Linked DNA regions of Homo sapiens: all the other regions are reported to be linked to region 1. Evidence: microRNA targets listed by miRTarBase, many of them from high-throughput screens and not tested one by one. Region 1 holds a microRNA gene; each other region holds the end of a gene's coding sequence.

Region 1 (3,109 bases):
GTGCCCACACTGGGAAGGAGATGGTGGTCCCACCCCAGGGAATTCCTATAGAAAGTGAGAAGCTGAGCTCTGCGTGTGCCCAGGAAGGCCCGTGGGGTGGATCTCCTTTTCAGGAACAAGTTCTAATCTGGAGTGATGCCTGGAAAAGAGGCTGATTCTGGTGAAGGGGCACTGGCGTCTGCCCCTTCCTGGCCCCTTTGGGATGGAGAGCTGACCTATGGGCACACAGCTGGCAGGTGGTGTTTGCCACCTGGTCTGCTGATCCCGCATCTCCCACCCCCTCCCCCGCCAGGATGAACCCCGGGAGAGGAGGCCGGCCCCGTGAATGATAGTGAGGAACCTGCCCAGTGCTATTGTTTGGTACTTAAAGCGAGGTTGCCCTTTGTATATTCGGTTTATTGACATGGAATATACAAGGGCAAGCTCTCTGTGAGTATCAAACCTTGTCTTGGACCCAGTCCACACTCAGCAAGGGATGCGGTATGTGTGTGCATGACCGTGTGTATCCGTTTTGTGTGTGGCAAATCGTTCACGGGTCCCCACTTCACAGAGAGGACTTCACGGGCACCTGGATGACTTTAGGGAAGGCAGTGGCCTCTGGGACATCCCCTCTCCTGGTGCAGTGTGGGCGGGGCCAAAAGCATGCACGATGTGTGTGGTCTGGGTCCCTGCTTCCTGAGCGGGAAGTCATCAGCCCGGGCCGATGGCTGGGGTGGCGCTCGTGTGGGGTAGTGGCTTTGTGGTCCCTGCTGTTACTCGGTCCGTGAGTGTGCATGTTCTGCTTGGGGTATGTGACCCGGTCCACTAACCCTCAGCATCTAATTCATCCCCAGGACCGCGCCTTGAAGACGTACCAAGTCCACCCAAGGCAGTGGCTTTCTTTTCCGTGCTAACCTTTGGTACTTGGAGAGTGGTTATCCCTGTCCTGTTCGTTTTGCTCATGTCGAATCGTACAGGGTCATCCACTTTTTCAGTATCAAGAGCGCAGACTCTGGAGCTCGATTTCCTGTGTTTGGATCCCACCTCTGACATTTACTAACCGTCCAACCTTGGGCAAGGATCTCATCGTGCTGTGCCCATTGTCTCACATGTCAAAGGGGAATCACATTGGCGTCCATTTCTTGGGGCTGCTGGGGCTGAACGAGTTAAGACTTGTACACGGCTCAGAGCAGAGCCCCGTGGTCGGCACTTCGTAGGTGGTAGCCAGGACCCTTGTGTGCTGTGAAACTATCATTGGTGGTGGTGGTGGTGGTGGTGGTGGTGGTTTTATGACTAAAATCTCTCCATGGGTTTTTGGAACAGTGTCAAAACATGGAAGTCAAGTCCTTCATCGGGTATGGAATGGACTAGGAAGCCCAGAGCATACACGGTGTTTACAATGGGGGCTAGTGATGCTCTTGATGCTTGGCAGCTAAGCCATTCACACAGTGGCTTTTGATACAGAATGCCACATGCAGTGGGGGTCAGCAGGGGTGCCGAGAACATTTGCTCCACTTAAGAGAGACAGTCCCTGGGTTCTTGACCTCGGCCACTATCTACGCTTTGAAGGAGTCTTGAGCGAGGATGCCAAGCTGAGTGAGGATTCTATGGCATCTTGCTTCCCTGGTGCTTAAAGAGAGGTCAAACTTGGTGCATGCATTGTGCATGCCTGTGTGTGCGTGGTGTGTGTGCATGAGCGAGTGTGTGACTGGGTTTGCCACGAAGCAGTCACCATCTAACCTTGAGCCAAAGACCTGGAGGTGGTGGTCCGTGCTGCTGTTTCATACTTGAGGAGAAATTATCCTTGGTGTGTTCGCTTTATTTATGATGAATCATACAAGGACAATTTCTTTTTGAGTATCAAATCTTGCCTCGGCAGACTTCCTGGACGCCATGACAAGTTCTGTAAAGGGATGCACGCATCAGCCCTTCCCAGGGGCTCACGCCTGGGTGGGGATGAGGGCGCATGCAGTTGGTTTGTGGTGGGGACACTTGTGCCCTAACCTCAGAACCCTGGAGGCGGGGCCACGCTTGGCAGGGGGCCACGGGACTCCTTGGTGCTATCAGGGATTTGCATTGGCCATGGGTGTGTGTTGTGGGTGACGCAGCATTCAAGCTACTTATCAAATCCTGCTTCTTGGAGGCACTTCTTGGACATGAAGCAAACCTTAGGGACCGATCATTGGGGCCAGACCCCCTTCCCCTGCCCAAGAGTGTGACTGACCCCCAGGCATGGGCTTGACTCTCAATGTGTGAAGCTGACCTGCTAATCCTCATTGTTTGGACTACCTGAGAAGAACTTTCTGGAAGAGACACCAACTTTGGAGAAGATGCCCAGCTCTTCTTGATGGCACAGTTCTTTGGTGCTTAAAGAATGGCTGTCCGTAGTATGGTCTCTATATTTATGATGATTAATATCGGACAACCATTGTTTTAGTATCCAAATTTGCTTCAGAAGTTTTTGAAAGCACAGTGCTGACTTCAGTGAGGGGACATTGGTGCCTGCCCCACCATGGAGTGTGACTGTGTTGATGATTTATAATGATGAATCCAGTGATCTCAGAATGCAAGCCACCAGTGTGATTTCCTTGGACAAATGCTAGCTTTGGGGTGGAGATGCCATTTAGGGGCTTGGTGCCATATCTTTTTATTGGAAGATGTTCACAATTATTTCATCTCTCTTTCTCTTCTTGTTATTAAATCTTAGCCACGAGGAATTCCTTGGAGAGATGCCGGGGTCAAGCCTCTCTCTAGGTAGATGGTGGACCGGGGAACCTGGGTCCAGCCTCTCCTATCTGTAGCCTTCATTCTGAGTATGAAACACTTCCTGTAGGGAATGCAAACATTAGTAAAAACTCCGTACATTTCCTGTTACTATTACTACTTTTTGGCAGCTCCTAAGCAGCTGCCTGTTGGGTATTTGGATTATTCTTGGTGGACGTGGCATGGCTTCGTGCCTTCCTTGGGAACCACCCCATCTTAGACAGACTCTCATGGAATAAGACGTTGTGGTCGACAGCACCTCTGGGGTGTGTGTGTGTGTGTGTGTGTGTTTGTGTGCGTGTGCATATGAATAGTTGGCTAGAGTAGTGTTTCTCAAACTTTAAAAATGCTCCTAAGATTTTCATCA
Region 2 (3,109 bases), not on the chromosome of region 1:
GGAAAAAAGTTGTGGTTGAGGGGAAGAGTTCTACATTCAGTTATTTTAGTTTAATATTACTAAGAACTTCATTGGAACCCAGAACAATCTTCCCTGCCGAAAGAGCTTTGTGCCCATTCTCTGTGAATGCTCTTTAGGAGAGATGCTTAAGGATTCTCTCCACACCTCCCCATGTGTCCTTACTCAAGACCAGAAACTCTCAAGGTGAGAAGGTAGATGAGAATGACCTTCAGTAATACCCTCTTTCCCGGTCCCCCAGTTCCCTCGAGCAGGGGCAGCAGACCCCACTGTGACCCACGGACCAAAGCCAGCCCACTGCCTTGTTTTTGTATGTAGTCAAAATGTACAAAAACAAGCCCTGCTCATTTGGTTAGGTGGCATCCATGGCTGTTTCACACAACAACAGCAAAGTCGAGTAGTTGCGACAGAAACCATATGCCCTGAAAAGCTGAAAATATTTACTATCTGGCCTTTACAGAAAAATTGTGCCGACCCCTGCCCTGGAAGAGCACAGTACCTCCATGCATTGGTGTGGCGAAGACGACTGGGGATTGCCGCTCTAAAACATGTTTGGATTAGGAAGCACGTTTAAGTAGGAGAAGCCTTCGTGACTTCTCTCTAGTGCCTTCGTGCCCTGTGTTGCCCACTGAATTGCCCTGTAACACCTAAGTGTAGTGGTAGCATTAAGGGATAGCTTTTCAGCCCTCAAGGTTATCAGGAGCATTTGTATCACTGCTATAAATAAAGTAGTATCACTTGTCATAATCAGGGTGCTGAAACATAATGAAAAGGTTTAACTTAGTCACAGTAAATATTTTATATCCCTGAAAATAAGTTATTTAATGAGAATAGAACTATTTAATGATCCATGAGTCCTAAAAGGATATCTGCCTTGTATTGCCAAGTTTAAGGCAAAGGTGAGATCCTGTATTAATAAGAAGACAGCTTTTTTGTTTGACATTGGTAAGTACCAAGAATTCTAACTCACATATAGTAGGAAACAACAAAAAGTCTCCACTGACTTCTTTGAATTAGATACTGAGAATCCACAATACAGTAGTGTGGATAACTTTCAAGAAGCCATTGGAAACATCTCCACATTCTGGGATGACTTGTAAATGTCTACAGAGTAATGGAAGGAAAGGCTTCCTTGTCTGCTCATTGCTGCCACCTGGGTTGGGAAAATAATTGAAGATGTTTTCTCAAGTCCTTCAAGAATCTCTTCTTAATGTTCAGAATAGTTTAAGAGCGTTGTTGAGGTAAACTGATAGCTGATTATTTTCTGAGATTTAGATCTAAACAAACTCAGCATGACGAGGAAGCACACTTCACAGCTCCAGGGTGCAATACTGATGTAAAGTTGCCTCGTGAGGATACATTTTTCGCTCATGTATGCAAAATTCCTATCAGTTCATTTGCACAGCCAGTTCCAATCATGTATGTGATCACCAGATTAAAAGCTTCATCCAGAAAGACAAGACTCCTCAGAACGAATAGTAGACAAGTAAGACTGCTACCCACAGAAGCCAGTACGCTTCAGGTGTGAGGCGGGGTAACTACTCATCTCTTCACAGAGCCAAGGAAAGAAAAAGAACGTCTCTAACATGATTTACCATTTTAAACAGCCTTATAAGTTTTGTCTCTTAAAATCATGCTGCAGAAGGAGGGGGTAAAAGTCGTGTTCTGCCCTGTCTGTGGCATTGGAGTGCCCCGCTAGGTAAGAAGCAACGCTTAGATCTTGCTTCCAGGCAGCAGCTTGAATTCCCGAATCTTCCTGCAAGGTGCATACAAATGCAGCGTGAGAATCCATACACGTAATCCATATTCACCTTCCCATCCATCCCGCAGAAGAGGCATGGTGACACCCAGGCTACTGTCCATGCTTGAGAGGACGTATTTGAAGGTTCTGTTACTACAAGTTGGGAATATTCACGGACATGCCTGAATACCCCGGCTGTAACTCACACGTGGTCTGTGTAAGTGGATTAACCTCGGGGCGGCCTTGTTTAATCCTGAATAATATCTGAAAGACTGAGTTTACTTGGGAATGTGTAGTTTTTCTAATGCACATTAAAATTTATTTTAGCTGTTAAAAATAAAATCATTTTATTATCAGCAGACTCTTTTATACTTTATGGGGCATCTACATACTACTTCCGCCACTCTTCATAATAAAATTATTTGTAAAATATAAAAAGTACTCCCCTGAGCTGATTATATGCCTCTTCTAGAGCCTCACCTGTGAAATGGGTGGGTGTGTCCCTGGGTAAGTTACCCAGTTTACTGGAGCCTCCTTTGTACTGTAATTTAGGGATAATTATTCCTACTTTGCAGACATTTGGTGAGATTAGAAGTCTTACATGTGTTAATTCCAGCAACGTCTGTGATGGTAGGAACTCATTGACAGCAGCTGTTCTAAAGCCTGTAGTATGTGCCATCATACTATATATAAATTCCAACCTTGAACGGAGGAAGAGAGGCCCTACTGCAATCCACAGGCAGATCCAGCCAACATCTGGGGCTTGCTTTGTGCCGAGTGCCATGCAAGGTTTTTTACATGTGTTTTCTCCTTTTAGTTTCAAACAGTCCTGTGGCGTAGGTGCTATCCTGCTCATTTTCCAAAAAGAAAACGGGCTTGAGGTAGAGTGATTTGCCTACGTAGCTCTGTGCTGTTCATCACATAGCAGCCCCCATTGGTTTGAACTGGCATTCAACCCCCCAAAACCCGACTCCTGGGCTCCATTCTTTTAGACTGCCCTGACTGGGGACTCCAGCTCCAGGCAGGCCAGGCACCTGTCTTTTTACCAAGGTGGGGGGCCAGTTCTTCCTCACACATCCCATTGCTCTTCTCCATTATTCCAAAAGGCTCAGCACAGCCACTACCCCCCCTTTCCCAGTGGATTAAGTTGCTTGGTATTGGCCTTTCATGATGGCATTAAAAGATGGTAATACCGTTAAATTTTTGTGTTACTACCTTACCTCCCCAGGATAAGCCTATTTTATTCCATCTACTGCCCCATAATACTCCACACATAAGGTACAGAGTATATTCTTAGATTTAAATAAGCCATACAGGGAAGCAGCTGTCATGCTAAAGAAAGCCATTTGA
Region 3 (3,109 bases), not on the chromosome of region 1:
TCCTCTTCCAACTCCCTGCCTCGCACTTCTCTACCAATCACCTTGAATGACTGGAGATTATTCTGCCCCATCTGCACCATGGCCTGATTTGACCCGGCTTCTGGGGAAGTGCCTGCAAACAGGCCTGGTGTGAAGGGCAGCCTCTGGCCAGGGAAAGGCCTTCCTCAGGACCAGTACCAGCTCCTGTTTGCAGATGGTCCAAAATCACTGACTGAGAAGGGGCTGTGTACCTTGCCAAGAAAGTGGACTAATATTTTTGGGAAGTTTTAATTTGCTTCAATTAAAAATTGAGGGCAGTTCTGAGCAAAACAGAAGTAGGTGAATTTATTTTCTGGGCCTCTGCACAGATCTTTCTGGGCCCTCAGCCTCTGCAGCTGTTTCCAAGAGGCCTCTACCCCAGCCAGCATTTCCCAACTAGCCGGTTCCATGACTCCTACCATTCCCCCCCTACTCTCCCGCCAAAGCAGGCCAGACCTGCCAGGGAGAAACTAATCTTAGAAATCATCTTTTTTCTTTCTTTGAGACGGAGTCTTGCTCTGTCGCCCAGGCTGGAGTGCAGTGGCACCATCTTGGCTCACTGCAAGCTCCGCCTCCCGGGTTCACATCATTCTCCTGCCTTAGCCTCCAGAGTAGCTGGGACTACAGGCGCCCACCTCCACCACTAATTTTTTGTATTTTTAGTAAAGACAGGGTTTCACTATGTTAGCCAGGAAGGTCTCCATCTCCTGACCTCGTGATCCGCCCGCCTCAGCCTCCCAAAGTGTTGGGATTACAGGCGTGAGCCAGTGCACCCGGCCAATCTTTTTTCTAAATGGAAGTGAATGGCTTAATTACCCTTTTCTGGGGAAAATTGTGTACATGCACTGAGATTTTAAGCAGATACACAAAAATTGGGTAAGAATGCTTGAATCTAGAGTTAGGGGGTCAGGCATATGAGAGCAACTCACTCTACATTCTTAAGTACAGTATACATTTTTTTCCTGTATACATTCTTTTAAATACATTTTAAATAATTTTAAATAAATGTAAAAGTACAGGATTTTCAATGACCCTTTTTCATTTTTAAAAAGTTCGCCCCATGGATTTAGAGATGTAGTGGGCTGGTTAGGCCAGGCAACCCTTCCCACATCCTTTCCAGGTAGAAGGCCCCAGTGACACAGCCCCAGTACTGCTGTTCCCACCAAGCAGTCGGGTCACAAAGTGGTCAAGGCCATAGACCTGACACAAAAAGTGAGCTGGATTAATCATTCTGCCTCACTTCAGAATCGGAACCAAGAACCAGAGCCTCTCTGCACAACTGTGTGGCTGTAATGATCTCCATTGTGTTCATTCTTGGGTACAAGAAACAGATCTCAGCCCAGCTCAAGTTGGAGTCGGGGTTTGTTTAGTTGGGACTCTTGGTGGCTCATACTTGCTTCGAATTAGCTTAAGCCATAGAAACAGGGAGGGGAGGGCTTCTTTTTTAGATCATGTTACCTAAAGTCACAGGGGTTTCTGTCTTCGGGCACAACTAGACCCAGGGGCTTCAAAGATATCCCCAGAGTCTGGCCCTGCTCTCTCCATCTGGGCCATCTTCCTCTCTCTCATGGTTCCACTTTAGGAAAGCGCCTCCCCACAGCCAGCAGCTCCAGGCTTATCCTCACAGCAACCCTGAGAGGAAACTTGCCTCCTTCTTGGTTGCTCTAGTCAAATGCCTGCGCTGGGGCTTCATAAGCCAAACGAATTCACATGAGGATTCCTGAACCAATCACTGGGGCCAGACTTGGAGACAAGAGGTGAGGGAGTGGGGCTGACCATCCAGGCCTCCAGGCTGAGTGAGGCGGTGCTGAGAAGGCAATGGCAGGAAGCACCAGAGGTCACCACTCAACTCCACACACCCTCTCCCCAGACACCCTCTGCGATGGCCTGAAGTCCTCACTACTTTCCATGTAAAGTTCAAGAGAGCAGGACCGTATCTGGCCCAGCTACTTGTTTGGCAGCAATTCCATGCCGGGCCACATGACAAGTCACTGCCAGCTTGGGGCTGTGTGCCTGTGGGTCAGGAGCTCTACTTGATCTCCCATGCTGGGACCACAGTTGGGTTGGAGATGGGGTCTCATGGCACAAACAAGGCTGCTTGGAGCTGCCCATTCAGGAAAGGTGATGGGTGGGATAGCTTCTGTCAGAAGAGGTTAGGGGAACTGCAGGCCTTATGAGTGACTCTAAGTACCACACATGACCTATGAGTTGGAAACAACTTTATTGATACCTGAGAAAAAGTGCAGGAAAAATATTCCTCCTGACCAGGTGGCCTGTCCCCTGAGGCCAGATCATTCTCTCGCCTCTCCCTTAAGCCCTGGGTCATTTGGGACCTCACTGGCCAGCACCCAGAGGCTGAAGACATCCACAGCCAGAGCCTGGAAGCCAGACCCAGAGACCAGGAGAGGGAATGTCTACAGCGTGGCTCCTGAGGTCAGGGCCAAGGTCAGCGTGGGACCCTCATCGGTCAAGGGCCAGCGCCTCTTGGATCACTGTCCGGAGTCCGATGGAAAACAGCTCCTCCCATGGTTCCCGGATCCAGGCAAGCAGGGCTGTCAGCTGCTCCTGACACACCACACGGAGTGCCCAAAAGCTCTCCAGCCGGGACACCTGGCAGACCGAGCAGTTAGCAAGGCGAGGCTCATGGGGACCACACCAGGGTGGGTACAAGGGAGGTCTCTGCGAAGGCCTCACTGTCTCCACCTTGGCTCAGTGCCTCTCCCCTTCCCCAGGCCCATGTCACTCCCCATAAAAGATCCTGACTCTGAGCTTTGTAAACAGAATCCAGCCGACGTTTACTGAAAGCCTCCAGAGGACCTGTCTTTTTCATCTTCCCTGTTGTACAGAAGATGCGGGCTCAATTTCAGGGAACTGTGGATTCAATTCCCGGCTCCACCACTTTGGACTGGGCAAACTGGTTAACATCCCCAAGCCTCAGCTTCCTCACCTGTAAATAGGACCAGTAACCGTATCTCCTCAGGTGGTGGTCACAAAGGCCAAACGGCTGGCATACAACCGGCCCAATCCTGCCAACTCAAAGCTGCCGGAAACCTCACTGAAAGCCTCGTGGCCCAGCTAAATGGCTGGGCTC
Region 4 (3,000 bases), not on the chromosome of region 1:
TTTAATGAACTCAAAAACTACTTTGTGGCAGTATGTCAAGTAAGTAAATGAATGTAGAGTTGTAATTACAACGTTGGAGTTTTTTAGACGAACATTATCTCCTCTTTTCTTAACTAGGGAAATATTGAGTATAATTCCTTCTGGGTATTAAGAAAAATTGGTTAAATTTTTTCCTTTTCTTTTTTTAAGGATTTACTTTTCTTAACAAGTGAACAATTTGCTTCTAAGCGTCAATGAAAGGCAACACCTCCCTCTAATGGCCAAAGGAAGAGAGTGGCAGTAAGCTGGCTTTTCCAATGTGTCACACAATCCTTCATGCCATTAAGTTCTCCTTGTTGGAAAAGAAATTAGGTTGTTTTGATAACTTAGAAAAGTTAGTTTTAGACAACAGTGACTTTCAGCTACAAATACAAAATCAAATCCATGTATATAAGGCTTCTGTAATCGATGTCTTAGAGGAACATCTGCTCATTTTCTCCAAGCCCCAGTCCTATAAATCAAGGCAAGTCAAGTAATTAAGCTTCAACTATTTTGGCAGCTTTGCAATTAAAATGAACAAAGCACTATATCTATCCTTCCATATACTGTATATATTATAGTTCTATCTTGTTACACCAAATCTCACATGCAGAGAGACTAAAAATATCCATTTTGGTTTCAGGTATAATTAAAAGCCAATAAGGGTCTTGCATACTATTCTTTTTCCCCTCCCCAAAGTGAATTCTCCATCAGATTTACTACTCCCTGACTCAATTATATTTACCTGGAATATCTGAATGCAGGTATTTATCCTCTCAGAAAAGAATATGTTTACCTGGGATCTAAACATACTGTACACGAATATACATAACTGCAATACAGCACTGCTGTTTTTAACAGCTCCACTTACACCTCATCAGTACCTCACAACCGTGTTTTAGGAAAAAGTTTTGTGTAATGTTATGGTAAAGAGAAGAAAATTATGTCTCTTAAATATTCCTTTAGAACAAATTCAGGCAAGTTTAAAAAATAAATAAAATGAATAAAGCCATGATTTCAACAACAGGGCTGTCTACAAACATCAACAACAAAATTTAAAAATTTTTAAGACTTAAATGTGGCCAGCACCAGACTACTACAACAACAACAAACCAAAAAAAAAAAGGGGGGGGGTGGAAGTCTCATTAAGCTATATAGCTATATGTAGTTGTATTGTACTTTTTTTTTTAAACACAGGTCACCATACACTAATTTTCAAGTCCGTATCAGAAGGAATATCTGTTAAAAACAAAAACAAAAACCATGATTCAACAGAAAATGTGACAGATTCCTTAGGTGCAACTTTAGAAACCTAAGTTTCAAAGGAGAAAAACAGTAGTTACTCCAGGAATTTTAACTCACTAACCACAGTTCTATCATGGCTCTGTAAGACAGAAAAATGGAACAAAATGTATATAGCTGTTGGCGATACGAGCCTTGTGGCTCAAATTGCATACCAAACATGGGATGGAGTAAGGCTGATGGCTAGAGGTAATCACCTCTAAGAGAAATGAACTGGAAATGATTTATAATCTACCCTACAAGGATATAATGCTAGGTTCCATTTCAGAGTAGTCACAGCTTTCCCTATGGAAGGCCCAATGGGAGGTTCATATTGCAACATTACAGTTTCTCCCTTACTCCATTTTTCAGAAGTATTAAGTAAGCAATCTCCACAATGTATTATATGACCTTTTTACCTGGTCCCACTGATTAGTCTTTATGCAGAGAACTCACTGAGAAAGTACACTGGCTTCACCTTTGGTTTAAATAAAAAAGACATTGTTAAGAAGGAAAAAAAATCAAGTCATCTTGATCATTTGTCACTAAATGAAACAAGAGAAAGCAATGAGCAAAGACTGTTTTCACCATAAATGCATTTGCTTCATAACCACTTAGGTCACTTAGAGTGTTTTGTGAAGGCAGCATAATCAGAATGCCACAATACTCGGATGCATCTTCCCAAAAGAGCCTCTAACCCCCAAAACCAAGAAAGGCGAGCTTCCTTTAATTAGAAGGCTATCCAAACTCCTATTCCCCACTCCACTACTAAATGAATTTTGTTTCTTGTCTATCCAGAGACAACAGAAATCTGGTTCGCAGGAATGCTCAGTAATCTTTCCCTGGCCTGAGGTGTTGCAGGGTGGTGCAGTGCTGCATTTGAAGGGGGAACTGTGGATTTCCATTTTTGATGGGACAGTTTTAAACAAGGTCAATTCTAACACAGCATGCTCCAGATTCCTACGATAACTACGCCAGTCAGAACGTGGTTGTTCATCACCATACTTAAAGCCTCCCATTAGAAAGCCTGCTTAGTATTAGGATGTCTATTAACCACACACAGTTTACCTTTTCTTTTTAAATACCTACCAACAGATTGTTTAGCAAGTCATAGCTCATCCTTCTCCATCATTTCAAATGCTTCTATATCTTCATTCCAGTCTGCTAATATGGAGTCTATAGGCTGGACCTTTTTACCCCAGCTAACATTAGGATTGGAATCTTCCTCAGTTTCTGATTGTTCTTGAAGCTGGTTATCTAAATCTGTACATTCACCATTAAGATTTGTAGTCTCATGGTTTTCTGTGGGATTAGAAGTCTGTTCAGAAGGGGAAATGCTTGCAGCATTGTCCATATCTGCTAGAGATAATGATTCTGGGTGAGAATTTAGAGAATTTTCCTCAGAAGACTCTTGATCAACCAAATCAACCTCCTGAGAACTTGATGAAATCTGTTCACCACTCTGATTCTGAGAATCATTTTCAGAGGATGGTTGTTCTTCATTTTCCATTTCAGGATCTGTATGAGAAAGAAACAAACCTCATGCTACTTCTCTAAAAAAATGTACTATTACACTTTCCAAAGCATATTGGTTTTTGCAACAAGATGAAATAAAACGTGAAAGAGACTCATGTTAATGCAGAAAGGTGAGCATCAGCACTGAAATGAAGACTGTCTTTATGCAGTCACATTTTCCTATAG

What was found. Region 1 holds the annotated microRNA hsa-miR-539-5p (GGAGAAAUUAUCCUUGGUGUGU, at 1,771-1,792, shown strand). A microRNA usually pairs through its seed, bases 2 to 8, with sites in the 3' UTR of a target mRNA and lowers its output. Matches are read on the target gene's strand: a 7mer-m8 pairs with bases 2 to 8, a 7mer-A1 pairs with bases 2 to 7 and ends in A, and an 8mer does both.
Region 2: miRTarBase lists MTNAP1 as a target of hsa-miR-539-5p. Seed matches in the 3' UTR shown: 7mer-A1 at 1,199-1,205.
Region 3: miRTarBase lists STK11IP as a target of hsa-miR-539-5p. Seed matches in the 3' UTR shown: 7mer-A1 at 2,250-2,256.
Region 4: miRTarBase lists EDEM3 as a target of hsa-miR-539-5p. Seed matches in the 3' UTR shown: 7mer-A1 at 1,756-1,762 and 7mer-m8 at 1,524-1,530.

What each region holds. Positions count from the first base shown.
Region 1 is chr14:101,045,559-101,048,667 of GRCh38, forward strand. MIR539 (microRNA 539) reads left to right here and starts at 1,763; the gene lies at 1,763-1,840. The region is part of intron 1 of MIR381HG (MIR381 host gene); the gene reads left to right. MIR381 (microRNA 381) reads left to right here and starts at 362; the gene lies at 362-436. MIR487B (microRNA 487b) reads left to right here and starts at 897; the gene lies at 897-980. It also overlaps MIR889 and MIR544A. RefSeq lists enhancers at 207-707, 708-1,208.
Region 2 is chr17:73,246,763-73,249,871 of GRCh38, forward strand. MTNAP1 (mitochondrial nucleoid associated protein 1) reads left to right here. Exons shown (of 6, transcript NM_001351264.2): 6 at 479-2,197. The coding sequence ends at 579. It overlaps CPSF4L (cleavage and polyadenylation specific factor 4 like), which reads right to left. Exons shown (of 6, transcript NM_001129885.1): 6 at 1,687-1,774. The coding sequence ends at 1,732. Among named protein-coding and RNA genes, the nearest start is that of CPSF4L, 14 kb to the right of the region's middle.
Region 3 is chr2:219,615,563-219,618,671 of GRCh38, reverse strand. It overlaps STK11IP (serine/threonine kinase 11 interacting protein), which reads right to left. Exons shown (of 25, transcript NM_052902.4): 25 at 2,221-2,628. The coding sequence ends at 2,479. It overlaps LOC124908064 (a long non-coding RNA gene), which reads left to right. Exons shown (of 2, transcript XR_007088701.1): 2 at 1-309. Among named protein-coding and RNA genes, the nearest start is that of SLC4A3, 11 kb to the left of the region's middle.
Region 4 is chr1:184,691,656-184,694,655 of GRCh38, forward strand. It overlaps EDEM3 (ER degradation enhancing alpha-mannosidase like protein 3), which reads right to left. Exons shown (of 20, transcript NM_025191.4): 20 at 1-2,817. The coding sequence ends at 2,408. Among named protein-coding and RNA genes, the nearest start is that of EDEM3, 62 kb to the right of the region's middle.